4 separate regions of the Homo sapiens genome follow, and all the other regions are linked to region 1. Evidence: fine-mapped expression QTL. A gene starts in region 1. Each other region holds a variant in brackets. All regions are shown on one strand. Distances are from middle to middle. Region 1 holds the start of MTRR (5-methyltetrahydrofolate-homocysteine methyltransferase reductase). Region 2 has its middle 49 kb from the start of MTRR. Region 3 has its middle 75 kb from the start of MTRR. Region 4 has its middle 92 kb from the start of MTRR.

The links. PIP is the estimated chance that this variant, and not a neighbour inherited with it, causes the effect.
Region 2: its variant is the best candidate, but not a certain one, in a credible set for the expression of MTRR in platelets (CEDAR, PIP 0.51).
Region 3: its variant is the best candidate, but not a certain one, in a credible set for the expression of MTRR in cerebellum (GTEx, PIP 0.51).
Region 4: its variant is the best candidate, but not a certain one, in a credible set for the expression of MTRR in whole blood (INTERVAL, PIP 0.85).

The regions. Positions count from the first base shown.
Region 1 is chr5:7,866,571-7,870,703 of GRCh38, reverse strand. MTRR (5-methyltetrahydrofolate-homocysteine methyltransferase reductase) reads right to left here and starts at 1,556. Exons shown (of 15, transcript NM_002454.3): 1 at 1,489-1,556. FASTKD3 (FAST kinase domains 3) reads left to right here and starts at 1,673. Exons shown (of 7, transcript NM_024091.4): 1 at 1,673-1,725; 2 at 2,508-4,058. The coding sequence starts at 2,621. RefSeq lists silencers at 1,054-1,103, 1,164-1,213, 1,224-1,663.
Region 2 is chr5:7,916,051-7,920,231 of GRCh38, reverse strand. No RefSeq gene overlaps it. Among named protein-coding and RNA genes, the nearest start is that of MTRR, 49 kb to the right of the region's middle. The variant T/C (reference allele first, on the strand shown) is at 2,089.
Region 3 is chr5:7,942,303-7,946,483 of GRCh38, reverse strand. No RefSeq gene overlaps it. Among named protein-coding and RNA genes, the nearest start is that of MTRR, 75 kb to the right of the region's middle. The variant T/C (reference allele first, on the strand shown) is at 2,372.
Region 4 is chr5:7,959,011-7,963,191 of GRCh38, reverse strand. No RefSeq gene overlaps it. Among named protein-coding and RNA genes, the nearest start is that of MTRR, 92 kb to the right of the region's middle. The variant T/G (reference allele first, on the strand shown) is at 2,162.

The sequences.
Region 1 (4,133 bases):
CCCTCAATCTTTAAGAAACAATGCAACAATACCCACACATAATATGAAATGGCCTTTTCTAAATTTGTTTTCAGCACTAATCTCAAATGAGCCTAAATAAGAATTCATCAAATTAAGGAGAGTGTACGAATGAAACTCTAATTCCATGGCTCAGAAATCAGATGATCGGCTCGAAACTACTTGGGCTTGAATCTGTGTTTCCTAAGTGCAACCCTGTAGACAAGCTCCCCAAATGATCCGTACCACAGCTCCTTTATCCTAAAAATGAGAGTATTACCACCTACCTGAAAAACGATGTGGCACAAGCCAAGAACCTGAACAAAACTTGAGCCACAGTATCATTCACAACAGTCTTAAATAGCTTTTGGTTTCCTCTTTTTAAAAAAAGATAAAAGTAAAAACTATATTAAAATGATAGGATTCTTGGTTCTTATTTGATCCTAACGCTAAACAAACTAATCATAGTACTAAAGGTAACTGAAGCACATACTCTCCTTCATTATTTAATGCAAATCAAAAATATGTGAGTGTATGGGCATATATACAAACGGGTGCATATAACGAAAAAATATTTCCAATCCACTTAAACATTTTACTAACACGTTTTTCCGCAAGAGATAAGCAGTAGTAAAACAAACGACACTCACAGATTTTTTTCCATACTCATCTAACGGCTAAAATTGGTGGGCTGTCAATTTGCAGAGACAGATTTAAACTGAAACCCAAACCAAAAGCTTGGCTTTCGGTGAATGAACCGCCCAGAACGGCACCTGGCATGAAACTGGTACTCGATAAGTTATCTGAATGAGTGAATAAACAATATGAAAACACTACACATTGACAGCTCACAGAAAACGGTGGAAACGATAATGAAAACCTTACTACAGCTAAAATTTCTATCACTTCCCATGAAACACACATCCTGAGGGCTTCCCAGGATCAATCAACCCCTCATCCCTGCTACTGCCCCACAATCCGGCACCACCTTCCCACGACTCTCAGCGGAGGCCCGGGCCCCAGCAGCCCCGGAAGCGGCGCGGAGGCGGTGGGCAGAGCTCACGGCCGCGGGCAGAACTCACGGCCGCGTCCCGCCGGGTGGGCGCTCGGAACGTCCCGGGTTCCCCGGAGCGCGCCGCCCCAACCCGGCATGTTCCCCAGTTCCCCGCGTCCCCGAGTGCGGTTTCCCTAGGCCTGGAAAGCGCCTAGAACCAAAGGCAGAACATGAGGAGAGACCCCACGCCGCCCAGGGGCCTCCCGCGGCAGAGGCCGACGCCGAGCCCAAGGACACGCTCCCGGGGACACCAAAGCCAAAGGCCAAAGGCCAAGTCCGAGCCCCAGCCCGCGCCCGCGGCGACCCCCGGAGGCCGAAGGGCGTGGGAACCACGGGCGCAAGCCGGCTGCCCACCCCCGCCCCGGGCCGCCTCTCCCAGGAGATTAGTGCAGGGCGAGCGGCCGGAATCCGGGAACCGTAGCCGACAGGCAGCTTACCCACGCCGCGCCAGCCGGGCACGAACCTGCACAACGCGACTTCCACCAACCTTGCGCCAGCGCGCACTGACGCAGCGCCCATGCTCGGTACCCAGGACCAATAGAAAGCTCCGAAGGGGACCTGGGCCAATCACATTGCGCCGCCCTGAGTCGTGCTCCCGCCCCGCGTTTGCTACGGAGGCCCACGACGCCCAGGCGCTTCCGCGACCACCCGGAGTGATTGCCCGGCAGAGCGCGGTAGGTGTCAACGCGGGGTCTCCGCGCAGTTGGTCCGGCTGGGTGTCAAAGACCTGGCCGGCTTTCTCCTCAGGCTGCGCCGCCCGGCCCGTGTCTCAGCGCAGGTCCCCGGGGCGCCGAGTTTGGGGGTGCTCGCCCCGCGGGTCCCTTTCATTCCTAGGAAAACGCGCCGCGGGGCCTCCCGTCTGTCTGTCTTGCACACACGTGTTGCCAAATCCCCCCGCACCGTCTTTAGATCTGGACTGGCCGCCCCACCTTCTCCCTTCATTGATCTATGTTTTGCTTTTTCTTTTCCTACCTTGTTTCCATTGACAAAGTAGACCCTTTCCTTCAACACTAACCTTCTCCCGACACCGAGGGGAAACCAACAGCTTAGGGCCTTTCCAGCGCGTTTTTACCCTTGCCTTGCTCTAACCTCGCCTAATTTTGCCCACTTTACCTGTTCTTTGATTTCTATCCAAATGCAATTTCTTCCTTCAACCAACATTTAAGGGCCACCCTTAAGAGCTACATTGCCTGAGTTTGAACCCTAGCTCTGCCACTTAACCACCTGCATAAACTGGGCAAAGTAACTTTGTGCTTCAACTTCTTCCTCGTGTAAAATGATAGTAAAAGTACTGAATCTGTGTAAGTTAATAGAATACCTACAACAGTGTTTAGCAAGTAATAGCGATTGTTATTGTTCAATGTCAGCCACTCTTCTAACTCTAGGATGCAGAGACTTTGCCCCTCTGGTGTTTATATGTTAACCATCCTTTTTTTTTTTTTTTTTTTTTTTCCAGATACTCGTTTGTAGTTTCATAAACATTGATGTTGGGTCAATCATGTTCTCAATGTATTTAACCATGTGTTTTTAAATTTTTTAATTTAGTTATCAAATTGAGAATCTGATGGTATGGCATTAATCACCTTGAGGAAGAACCTTTATCGTTTATCTGATTTTCAGATGCATAGAGCTCTGGCTGCTTTAAAAAATAAACCTCTAAATCATGTTCACAAGGTAGTCAAGGAGCGTCTGTGCCCTTGGTTGTGTTCACGACAACCTGAGCCTTTCGGGGTCAAATTCCATCATGCCCATTGTAAAAAGTTTCATTCGAAAAATGGAAATGACCTTCATCCACTCGGTGGACCAGTGTTCTCTCAAGTATCTGACTGCGACAGGCTTGAACAAAATGTTAAAAATGAGGAGAGTCAGATGTTTTACAGGAGACTGAGCAACTTGACTTCATCAGAAGAAGTGCTAAGTTTTATAAGCACGATGGAAACCCTGCCTGACACTATGGCAGCAGGAGCTTTACAACGAATTTGTGAAGTGGAAAAAAAGGATGGTGATCAAGGGCTGCCAAAAGAAATACTGGAGAATAGCATCTTTCAAGCTTTATGCTTTCAGTTTGAAAAGGAGCCCTCACAGCTGTCAAACACTAGTTTAGTGACTGCTTTGCAAGCTCTGATTCTGTTGCATGTGGATCCTCAAAGTAGCCTGTTGCTGAACCTGGTGGCAGAATGCCAAAATCGTCTCAGAAAAGGTGGCATGGAAGTTCGCAATCTTTGTATTCTTGGGGAAAGTCTGATTACACTGCACAGTTCAGGTTGTGTGACACTAGAACTCATTATAAATCAACTTCAAGGTGAAAAATTGGAAACATTTACCCCGGAGGATATTGTGGCCCTTTATAGAATCTTGCAGGCATGTACTGAAAAAGTGGATGAACACCAAACATTTTTAAATAAGATAAACAACTTTTCCCTATCAATAGTTTCCAACCTGAGTCCTAAATTGATTAGCCAAATGCTCACTGCCCTGGTGGTTCTTGATCAAAGTCAAGCATTTCCTCTGATTATAAAATTGGGCAAATATGTCGTGAGGCATGTCCCACATTTCACTAACGAGGAGCTTAGGAGAGTCTTGGAGGCGTTCATATATTTTGGGCACCATGACACATTTTTTACAAAAGCCCTAGAGCATCGTGTAGCTGCGGTGTGCCTCACGTTGGATCCTGAAGTTGTCTGCAGGGTCATGGAGTACTGCAGTAGAGAACTGATTCTTTCAAAACCCATCCTCAATGCAGTGGCAGAAACTTTTGTTTGCCAAACAGAAAAATTTTCACCTCGTCAGATTTCTGCCTTAATGGAACCATTTGGGAAACTCAATTATTTGCCACCAAATGCCTCTGCTTTATTTAGAAAGCTGGAAAACGTGCTATTCACTCATTTCAATTATTTTCCACCCAAATCATTATTGAAACTTCTTCATTCATGTTCACTTAATGAATGCCATCCAGTCAACTTTCTGGCAAAAATATTCAAGCCTCTTTTCCTTCAACGGCTGCAAGGTGAGTTGGTTATAAATTCTGACAGTTGGAAAAAAGTAACCTTTGAACTGGCAGTGGTTTCAAGTCACATATAAA
Region 2 (4,181 bases), 50 kb before region 1:
AGGTAACATCATATGCAATGATAAAAAAAAATGGGCCAGGTGCAGTGGCTCACGCCTGTAATCCCAGCACTTTGGAAGGCCAAGGCAGGCGGATCACGAGGTCAGGAGATCGAGACCATCCTGGCTAACATGGTGAAACCCCATCTCTACTAAATATACAAAAAATTAGCCAGGTGTGGTGGCGGGGGCCTGTAGTCCCAGCTACTCAGGAGGCTGAGGCAGGAGAATGGTGTGAACCCAGGAGGCAGAGCTTGCAATGAGCCAAGATTGTGCCACTGCACTCCAGCCTGGGCGACAGAGCGAGACTCCATCTCAAAAAAACAAAAAAAAAAAAAAAAAAAAGTTTTCCCCCAAAGATCAGAAACAAGTAAAAAAATCTCTTCTCCCCACTTTTATTCAACATTATACTGAATGTTATAGCCAGTGCAATAACACAAGAAAAAGAAATAAAGTATGCGAAGACTGAAATAATAAAGTATAATTTTCTTTACTTGCAGATTATGTGCTTATCTATGTAGAAAATCTTAAGCCATTTAAAAAACAGCTATTATAACTAATAATTGAGTTATCATGGTTACACGATAAAAGGTCAATATACAAAAATCAATTACATTTCTACGCACCAGCAATGAACAACTGGGAATTGAAACTTTTAAAAATACCATTTAAAAGCACATGAAAAAAATGAAATATTTAGATAAATTTGACAAAAACTTTCTAAAATGTGTACACTAAAATTTATAAAGCATTGCTGAAAGAAATTAAATGTCTAAATAAATAGAAGAGTATCCTATGTTTTATGAAGGAAAGACTCAGTATTGTAAAGATGTCAGTTTTCCCCAATGCAATTAAAACTAAAGTTTGAGAATAATTTTTTTTGCAGAAATTGAAATGCTCATTCCAAAATTTGTATGGAAATGCAATGAACCTAGAAATAACATATTTTATAACAGAAGAACAAAGTTGGAGAATTACACTACTTGATTTCAAAACTTTGTAAACCTATAATAGCTAGTTTTGTATGGGCATAAAGATAAACATAGAAATCAATGGAACAGGTTAGAGAATCCAGAAACACAGCCACACTGTACAGTTGATCTTTGAACAACACAACTTTGAACTGTGCAGTTCCACCATATGTGGAGTTTCTTGCACTTCTGCCACTCAAGAGACAGCCAGACCAACCTCTCCTCTTTTGCCTCCTCCTCTTATTTGCATTCAACATGAAGACAATGAGGATAAAAAACTTCATAATGAGTGCCATAATGAAACTGGTAAAGTTTCCAGTCAACAGCAAATTATTAGTAGTTAAGTTAGGGGAAGTCAAAAATTATATGTGGATTTTTGACTACACAGGGAATCAGCATTTCTAACTTCTGTGTTGTTCAAGGGTCAACTATTGACGAGCAATTCAAATTTGACAAAGGTACCAAGGTGACACAATAAGGAAAGTCCAATTGTTTAAATAAATAGTGCTGGAGCAAGTGGATATCCATTATCCATATGCATGAAAAATGAACCACAACCCTTACCTTACATAATACATAAATACTACCTGAAAATGGGTCATAAACCTAAATTTAAGAGATAAAATCATAACATTTCCCAAACAAAACATAGGAGAAAATCTTAGAGACCTTGAGCTTGGCAGATGTTTTTAAGTAGAACCCAAAAGGCACTAACAATTTTAAAAAAGGAAAAGAACTTTGGACTTCATTTTAATTAAAAATTTCTCCTCTCCAAATATGTATTAAAAATGAAACTGTAAGTCACCAAATGGGAAAAAATATATATTTGATGAAAACTTTTTTCTGAATATATAAAATAAAACTCTTACAGCCTAATGATAAAATATAAAATATGGAAAACAGTTTTGAACGGACACTCTACCAAAGATGATAAATGAATGGCAAATAAACAGCTGAAAATAAGCTCAACATCAGTAGTCATTAGGAGAATGCAGGTTAAAAGCACAATGAGATAACACAACACAAACATGAGAATAGCTAAAATCAAAAGAGACTGACCAGAACAAGTATACCTGGTGAGGATGTGAAGCAAAAAAATAAAAAATAAAAATAAAACCGT[T/C]TCTTATAAAGTAGCACAACCTCTTTGGGAAACACTTTGGAAGTTTCTAAAAACATTACCTTCACATGGCCCAGTTATTCCATATCTAGGGATCTGCTGAAGTAATAAAAGCATATAGTCACACAAATTCCTGTGCACCAAAGTCACAGCAGCTTTATCTGAAATAGCCAAACACTGGAAAAACCCAAATTTTCATCAAAATGTGAATGAATCAGCAAATCATGATATATTCATACAATGGAATATTACTCAGCAATAACAAGGGATAAACTACTGATGCATGCAACAACATAAACAAATTTTAAAACATTTATGCTGCCTGAAAGAAGTCAGAGAAAAGGAAAGTACATAGCATATGATTCAATTCATAGAAAGTTCTAGAAAATGTAAAGTACTCTATAGTGACATAAAGCAGACCCTCGGTTGTTTGCAACAACAGGGGTATTGAAGTGATGGAAAGTATGTGTTTCAAAGGGTCACAGAAAAGTTCTTGGTGTTCATTATTTCAACTCAGTGATATGCAGATGTCAAAAGTCACCATATTGTGAACTTTAAACGTGTAGTTGATTGTATGACAGTTATCATTCAATAAAGCTGTAAAAACTGTGATGCAATAACTGTTATGGATTGAGTTATATCCACCTTCCCAGGCTTATACGTTGAAGTCCTAACCCCCGGTACTTCAGAATGTGGCTATATTTGATGATGGGGTGTTTAACGAGGTAATTAAGTTAAAATAGAGTCATTAGGGTGTCCAGTATGACTGGTGTCCTTACAAGAAGAAGAAATTTGAATACAGACATATACAGGGAAAATACCATGTGACAATACAAGGAAAAGACAGCCATATACAAGCCAAGGAAAGAGGCCTCAGAAAAACCTAACCCTGCTGACATTGATCTTCTGTGCTTCCAGAACAGTGAGAAAATAAATTTCCTTTGTTTAAACCACCCAGAATGTGGTAGTTTGTTATGACAGTCCTCACAAACTAATACAATAACTTACCTAAACTTTCAGAATTCAACAACATTTTCTCTTTCCAATGTCCATTAAACATATTTCTGTTAAGGGAAAGTGAGGAATCGATCAAATATTTAACAAAAGTTATAATACTAGTAATAAGAAGGCAGCCATTTGCCTAGAACTTTATAATTTTTGAAAACACTCTCCCATATCTTTTTTGTCTCAATAGAACATTTGCTGGTAGTTTTTCTTTTTTCTCAATCTACACTGAGTTAACACTTGTATAACCCGCATACTAAGAAACAGAAGACTATAGATGGAAAGCTCCAGTTCATACAGCTTGGCTGCCTGGATGTACAGAGGAAGATCAAGGTCTTGTCAAGATGATGTCACTTGTTGAGATGGTGTGTGAATGAATGGCTTGTCAAGATGGTGTAAGAACCAGCCTTGGAACCAACTTTGTGATTCGAGTTTCCTTGGTTTAAAAAAAAAAAAATCCAATGACATTTCTATGGAAATAAGCCTAAGTGGGCACGTTCCCACTCATTCTAGGATCATGCACAATAATGATGTCACACCAGGAAGCTGAGGCTTGTAAGCTTCCCTGTAGTATTTCAAACAGTATTTATTCCCATTCATTTTCCAATACCTACACCAGTTTGTAAGTGATCTAGCCTAATGGTTGCCCTCGTCCAAACTGCCCTTCGAGTTTTATAATGAATTCTCCCAAGAAAAGCAGCTTTGCGGTGATGTGGAGAGACAAGCTGTTTGAAATGTGAGCAGGATGAGGGAGCCCTAGAGGTTTATGTGGGCATTTGTAATAGAATCCAGTTCCTAAATCATTCTTACATGTGTGGTTCAAAGTAAACATTACACAATACCGCTATCATTTCCAATTTAACTGCCCTGAGGGCTAAATTCTGAAAGCCAAGGAAATAGATACTTTTATTATTAAGGTAAATTGAAGAAGACCTTCATATACCTCTTCAATTTTATGTTTGCTCCCTTTGCAGAACTGCCTGCTTTGGGAACCTTTTCACTTATTTCTTCCTTCATCTCCTAGACTCATTTCCATTTGTCTGGAGGCTGGCCTTTTATTCCACTGAGATCCCAGACACTTGCAGGATAAT
Region 3 (4,181 bases), 76 kb before region 1:
CCATCTCTACTAAAAATATAAAAATGAGCTGGACCTGGTGGCCATGCCTATAGTCCCAGCTACTCAGGAGGCTGAGGAACGAGAATTGCTTGAACCCAGGAGGCGGCAGTTGCAGTGAGCCGAGATGGTGCCACTGCACTCCAGCCTGGGCAACAAAGTGGGACTCCATCTCAAAAAAAAAAAAAAAAAAAAAAAAGACAGTGAACAGATGTTTTTTAGTCCTTATATTCTGGCCTTACATAAACAGGTTTAATTCTAGTCTCTTCCCACCAAACTCAAGAAAATAACTGTCCTTGTAGGAACACTGAATATCTAGTACTCAAGACAATCTTTGCTTCTGATGTCTCCACAGAGGTGTTCCACTCTCATGTTCAACATGCTCAATACCCACTCAAGCTTTGGATGGAAATCCCCACTCATTTTAGGTACCTGTGGTTTTATTTTTCTTTATTGCAATCTCAGCTATGCACTTTTATTTTACATTTACTATAACTTATTCAGCATTTTTCTGTAGTTGGCATGTGTACATTGCTGAGAGGTTGAGGAGGAAGGCATTCCATGTTAGTGCCATCTTCCACAGACTGGAATTCTCATGGCAGCATCTAAGGGAAATGATCCCAGAGACTCGTGGCTGCCATGGTTACTGGAAGGTCCATTGAACAAGGAGCTTGTTTCTATACATGAGTTGCCATGTGCATTTACTGAAGAATGTCATTTTTCTCAGTATTCAAAATAAATGTAGTATCTCTTTATAGCAAAGGTTGAGACCTTGTGTGTCTGAAAAACAGAATATACAGGAAACTCCAAAGTTTCTTATGCCTAGGTGTTGAGTACTCGAAGATCACCCTCCTGAGACTTTCCTTACTCTTCTTAACTGTGTAATTAAATACAACTGTAGTAAATTAAACACAGACAAAAATGCTTTCCTTGACATAATCTCAGTACAGTCTGCCTTAATTCTAATTAGCAAAATCTTCTGTTTTAAGAAACAATTTAGTTTAAAAGGTTTTAGGCATTTTTTATGTTAAAGTGTTGGCTATCACGACTTTTTCTGTAGTTTTTATTTCCTTAGAGCTATTCTTTGAGTGTTACTAGAGTGGGCTGCAGGGAATTGGAAAGCTTGGATGTGGGGCATGCTGACGGCAGTACTTTGGAGATGATATTATAAAAGCAATGTAGGCTGGGTGTGGTGGCTCACACCTGTAATCCCAGCACTTTGGGAGGCTGAGGCAGGTGGATTGCCTGAGGTCAGGAGTTCAAGAACAGCCTGGCCAACATGATGAAACCCTGTCTCTACTAAAAACACAAAAAATTAGCCAGGCATGGTGGCGGGTGCCTGTAATCCCAGCTACTCTGGAGCCTGAGGCAGGAGAATCTCTTGAACCCGGGAGGCGGAGGCTGCAGTGAATCTAGGTCATGCCATTGTACTCCAGCCTGGGCAACAAGAGGGAAACTCTATCCAAAAAAAAAAAAAAAAGCAATATAGACCAGCTTTCTTATGGGAAAGTGTTTCAAAACCCATCTTATCATAAAAAGGTAAACCCAAAGGTAAACCAAAAAGGTAAACCAAAGGTGATTTAGTGGATACAATAATCTTCTCCCAAAGAGACAAAAGTTGGCAACCTTCTTTCTAATGCATCCATTTGAAAGTTAGACATATTCACTTGGTTTTCCACTTTAGGCTGTCAAATTTTTGTAGACATTGGTGTCCAGGTCTGACAAGGTGAACGCAGGATTCAGACGATTCAGACATGCCCTGGATTTTTCCCTCAACCCCTTCCTCTCCGTTGTTTCCAAGCATCTAATCTTTTATTTCTGTTGGCAGAATTATCCTTGCCAAAGTGAGCAAAATTCTATCTCCACCTGAGTTGGGTAATATCTCATTGTTGTTTCCAAATGACTTTGATAGTTTGTCACAAAGGATGACCTTCAAAAGCTCCCCAAATTCTTACACAGCCCAACAGTAGGATTTGTTGTTACCTGGGTCCCAATTTAATTTTACTACACTGGCAAACTGTAGTTCCTGAAATGAAATAACCTGACTAAACTGTAAAGTTAATAGTGATGAGTTTTAAGATAAACAGGACAGTTGGTTATTTTCTAAGCACTGAGCACTGGCCCCAGTATCCTGATCTGCAGGCTTTGCAATTTGACATTTGCTGACGCAGACAACAGAGGGTCCATTTATAACAAAAAAGCACAGTCTCCCACCCGAGGGAGTTTTCATTCTCTCAATGCACCTGTCATCTTTCTCTCACTCTGCAATTACAAAACCTTTTCCACCTGGTTGTGCTGTAGTCATTGCCTCTGGCTCTACGAATGGATTATCACTTCCCAGGGAGGGCTTCCAGGGTGCAGATTCTTTCAGAAA[T/C]AGCAATTTGATTGGAGGTTTCTATTGGTGCTGGCAGCCCCTGGCCCATGGGTAATGGGGCAGGAAAAGCACATCCTTCCCACCCCATGGCCACACTGGCTCGGCCTTTAACTGTCCTACATATTTGTGTTCCACATAAACGTTTCTATTTCAGAAAGAAGGAAGCTCTACAACATAAAACAAAAGTTAAGTGAAAGCCACTTGTCTGCAGAAGTGAGAGTTGTTTTTGTTTCTTTCTTTTTGTTTTGCGACAAAGGTAGACAAAATCCTCATTGTGAGGTTCTTCCAGGTCTAACTCCTCTCTTTCCTTCATGCTTCTCTCCACAGAAATGCTCTGTCCCTGTCAAACTCATCTCTTTACCACCAACCACTGCAACATGACACATGCAATCTCACTGCCTTTCATCCACTAATACTCTTTCCTTTGCATAAAAAGCACAACTATTGATTGTCAACATCTGCCCTTCAGGATTTGCTCAACTCCTACCTTTTCAGGAAAGTAGCCAATTATTTCTATCTCATGGGGCTCCCTCGTGATCCCCACGGCAACTTCACAACAAGGCCTTGAGGACGCTCCTCGATTGTTACTTCAGAGCTGTACACAGTAGACTTAGATCTTCTGCACGACATCACTCCTCATCTAGTGCTTCACAAATGAGAATACTCAGCCAAGAGTAGGACAGTTAGTCCTTAGAAAATTCGTTTAAGCCTACTGAGTGAAGAGTAGGGTAGCTAACAATTAACAAATTTGTTTAAGCTTTGCAAAGTCTTACTTTTCATATGCATATGACGAATGACTGAATTTTCAGAAAAGTAATATCTTTCTATGAGATTGCCGTTACCAAGAATAGATCCATACTGAGATTCAGCTGATGTGAAAGATTTGACTTTTGAGAAATTATGTTTATCCAGGTAGGTGCCAGTCCCTCCCCAGCAGTGAGATGTTTGGATGCAGTCAGTTGACCTGATTTGATAAATGCCTTCCATTTTGTGAAGACAGGAAGAAACGGACGATGAGAAGAAAAAAGAAAAGGACTAAACTTGGGCATTCCTTAATGAATGCCAGTCACATCTCAGCGTAGGCATTTCTTAGCCTTACTAAAATCCTTTAAAAAGTCCATCACGCTGGTCCTCATTAATCCAGTCATTTCCCATGTGATCTCCGCTTTTATGAAAAGGTTTTCAGAACCACTCTCTACACATGCAGTGATTCTATTATTGTGTTCAAGGACACATCATCCCACATTTGTCTGCAAACTGCACATGGTTATGTGATGCTGTTCTCCCACGAATCCAGAATTCACTCATGCACATCCACACTTCATATCCAGTGTACACGCCAATGTTCTCTCACCCGGCTCCCTCTGGGAGAGTGGCAGGAAGTGGGTGGGTTGGAGCAGAAGTGCTCATGCAGCTGAGGGCACCAGCAGGCTCACTAGGCTGCACCCCAGTAAATGTAACAGTAAATTTTACATTGTAAAATTTTAAATTTTAAAATGTAAACGATCTCAAAGACCTGAGTTCCCCTCAAAGATCAAATCGCTTAAGAAATTACACTGCTCCTAGTTACCCATTCACTCCCCTTCCAGGCTTCCCAGGGCACAGGAGGTCCACACTGGTGGTGTAATTCTGGCCATGGTGTAACAGTAAATGTAGGGTCTCTGTTTTTCTAACTGTATTGTGAACTTCTTGAAGGCAGATCATTGGAATCTTTTACTTCCTTGTATCAACACTGCATCTCCTGAATTACTAAAAGTTTGTGGGTTTAAATGGACTCTGCCATTTCTTGGCATACTCCAAGCTAGAAGCA
Region 4 (4,181 bases), 92 kb before region 1:
CAACCAGAAGATGGGTCTTGTCTGCAGGCAGCAGGTATAAAATTGAAGACAGTACCAAGCATGGGTCATGGTGAATGGGTTTCTGCAGCTTCGCACAGCTCAGAGAACTTCATTCCCTTTGCATAGCTGAGAGGGGGTTCAGGGACCTAAGTGACACTGGCGGGAGGCAGTCCACATGGACCCTCACACACACAGAATGCTCCAACGTGTGTGGGGACAAAAGCCCACTCAGGAGACTCCACCCCAGGACTCTGCACAGGAGGCAAAAGTAGCATTTGGCTGTACCTCAGAAGTTGCAGGGCCAGCGCTGCCCCTGCCCCTGTCCCTGCCCCGGTGAGATCTGCCACCTAGAAATGCACTTTGCCCTCCTGCTTGAGGTTCCTCAAAGGTGGGAGGAAAGAGCTGTCACTAGATCAGCTCTGAGTGCAAGTCAAGCTGTGGTATTTTGTTCATTCAACATATTAAGGACAAATACAGGTCATGTTGAGATTTATAGCATTGTGAAGATATTCAAGGATTTTGTAATGCAGTAAAGGATGTTCCTCTGTCTAGGAAGAAAGGTAAAATAAGACATTTGCTGCTGCAGCCAGATGTTTCCTGTGATTGAGGAGCTCACCGATGATCATAAATGACTGTATGACTGCAGAAGTACAAAGTACACAGTGTCTCAAGATTTGCATTTTTCTCCAAAGAGTTTACAGAAGCCAAGGCCCATAGATTTTATTTTTGAAAGAGACAAATGGGAGGGACGTGCCCCTCACAAAATCTGAGGCTTCAAGCAGTTATGGGAGCAGAGTTGTGAATGCAATGTTTGTTTGTTTTTTATTTTATGAAGAGAAACAGTTTTTTTCCAGAGAAATTGTGTGTCTGCTTGAATCCAGGAAAAAAAATTATCATAAGGTGACAGAAATCAAAGAGGCAATATCAAAACATGTTTTTCTGTGGTCACTTTAAAACAACAAAATGTTTCATGCTGATTTCCCCAAAGATATCACTTTCCTAAAGATTATTAAGTTTTATAAACTTCTCTTTGAAATTGTTTTCTTTAATGATAGAAATTTCTAAAATCTATAGTGCATAAGTAAACTATAACATAGGAGTAAGCTATAGTGTATGAGTGAGCTACCTGTTCATCACATTCTTCTATGGTCCGCTCATTGATACAGTAGATTGCATTGAGACCCCTTTGTGCCAAGACACTGCCCTGCCAAGCAGTTTAAAAATGTATGTCTAATCAGTCTTTCCTTGAGGAGATACGGTCGTGAGACATGATGGACACACAAATATCCACAAAACAGCACAGTGAGAGATAAGTACTACTGAAAATTTTTCTCAGTCTGCATAGTTTATTTTAAAGCATTAACGCTTGCTGATTTCCTCAACAAGTCTGAAGAACAGAAAAGTAGGGGTGATATTGTCAGAGGCCTTTGAACCAGAGCAACTCCATCTTGAATAGGGTGAGCAAAATAAGGCTGAGACCTACTGGGCTACATTCCCAGACAATTAGGCATTCTAACTCACAGGATGAAATAGAAGGTCAGCACAAGATACAGGTCATAACGACCTTGCTGATAAAAGAGGATGCAGTAAAGAAACCAGCTAAAACCCACCAAAACCAAGATGGCAACAAGAGTGACCTCCGGTCGTCCTTAAGGCTATACTCCCACCAGCACCACGACAGTTTACAAATGCCATGGCAACTTCAGAAAGTTACCCTATATGGTCCAAAAATGGGAGGAACCCTCAGTTCTGGGAATTGCCCACCCCTTTCCCAGAAAACTCATGAATAATCCACCCCTTGTTTAGCATATAATCAAGAAATAACCATAAAAATGGGCAACCAGTGGCTCATGCCCCTGCTCTGCCTATGGAGTGGCCATTCTTTTTCTTTTTTTTTTTTTAAGCACATTAAAAAGTAGGATTTATCCTAAGGATGCAGGGTTGGTTTAATGTTTTAAACAAATTAATGTAACACACTGTATCAATCTGATAAAAGACAAAAACCATGAGAAAAGCCAGAAGTGAGATGGAGAAGTAAGAAGGGACAAAAATGGAAGTTACTTCAAAGGAATAATCATGAGGACTTAGGATACAAAAAAAAAAAAAAAGACAGAAAATTATAGTTAACACTGGAGATTTTTGTTTAGTTACTATTTTTTAT[T/G]TATTCATTTTTGTCCTGATGCCTTGAGAGGATGAGATATTCTAAACAGACACAGAAAAATCAGGATTAGGAAGCATTGAGGAAAGGAAGATTATCAGACACAAAATGTCTAGAAGACAGATGAAAATGTGACTCCGGAGTAGCCTACAAGGTCACTGTCATAAGACTTTCTATAGCAGTGATTATTGCAGCTAATTTTGTCTTCCCAAATTTGTATATTCAAGTTCTAAAGCCCCCCACCCCAATAACTCATAATGTAACCATATTTGGAAACAGGGTCTTTAAAGAGTTAATTAAGGTAAAGGAGGTCATTAGAGTGGCCTCTAATCCAGTACGACTGGTATCCTTATAAGAAGAGGAGATTAAGACAGAAACATGCAAAGATGGAAGACGATGTGTGGACACCAGAGGAAGAGGCCATCCAGAAGCCCAGGAGAGGGCCTTCTAACACCTTGATCTAACCCTGCTAACACCTGACCCTGCTAACACCTTGATCTTGGACTTCCAGCCCCCAGAATTGTAAGAAAATAAATTTCTGCTGTTCAGGTCACCTAGTTGTTTTATTTTGCTATAGCAGCCCTAGCAAACTAATACAGTAACTTCAGAAGCAATTTCCTGAAGGCCAATTTGGAGTTTGAAATAAGACACTCCTAATTTCATATACCACAAATTTGCATATTGCCACAGACACTGTGTGGGATATCCTGAGGCCACGTGCGATTTAAAGTTTCATTAATGCTTCTCTGAAGTCCACTGTGCCCGCGTTGTTTGCCCTCACGCTATTTGTGACTCGAATTCTGCAACCTATATTTGAGAAAAAGAGAAGGTGGAAAATTGCCAATCCAAACAAGTAGAAAATTCCCTGAAACGTGGCAGGTTGATGGCAAAATGAAGATAATATTGGCAACTCTCAACCGTGTTGCAGAAGCATTTTCCCATTGAGGATGCAGCAATATTTCTGGTCCCACGTGTGCTCCCCCATTTACAGGTGGACGATTTTTCTCCTTCCCTTGAACCTGGCAGGTGAATGAACAGGATGTGGTCAAAGTGATGCACCTGACTTCTGTGCCTGCCTCTCTCACTTTTCAGATGCTCACCTGTGCAACCCAGTGACACACTGTGAAGAAGCCCTGCCCACAGGGAGAAGCCACAGGGAGATGTTTCAGGCAAGAGGCCCAGCCAGGGTCCCATGTGACAGCCCCTCATGTGAGTAAATAAGACTTCAGGCTGTTCCGGCCCCCAACCTTCAGCTTCCCAGGCTCATGCTGAGAATTTCCCTTCACCACTGTTGTTCGAGTTCACCTCTGAGTGTTGGGGGAGGCCCCTTCTCCCTCTTGGCCTCTGCCCAGCACCAGCCTACAGTCTGGAGGAACAGCAGCTCTGAGACCGGCCAGGAGTTCTCAGTGTTCCTGTGAGTCTGAAAGCAGGAGCGTTCTCCGGGAATTTGCACGCTCTGCCTTTTGGCGAGGGGTAATTTACCCATGGAGAATGGCAAAGGGTCAGGCTTGTTTGTGGGGATGCAGGGGCACCCTCTTAGGGCTTCCAGAAATCACTTGGAGAGAGTATCCTTGGGGGAAAGGACTGATGCTCCATGACCAACTCGGAGACTTACCTAAAGGGACGCACCAACTACATTCTTATTTCACACAAGCATGGCACTGCCCCACAGGCCGGTAGGGTGATCTCTGAGTAGAGATGGTTTATGCCATTTCTACAGATAGGCCTCCCCTTATTCTAACTAAATGGGCTCATCATCTCAGAGTCATTCAACATGCTAGATGGCGTTCACCAATAAGCCTGGCAGAGATTAAACACTGAATCTCTAAAGCTACTGTTGTGCTTGGAAATAGGCAATTTGACATACTGTTGGTCAAGTGAACTTTTCCAAAGATCAACTTAGCAGTGACATCAGAAGCCTGAAATGGGTGCTTGCCTTTGACCTGGTAACTTTGTTTACAAGAATGTATCCGTAACTCAGCATGGTGTCCATGTCTACAAAGACATTCATAACAGTCTTGTT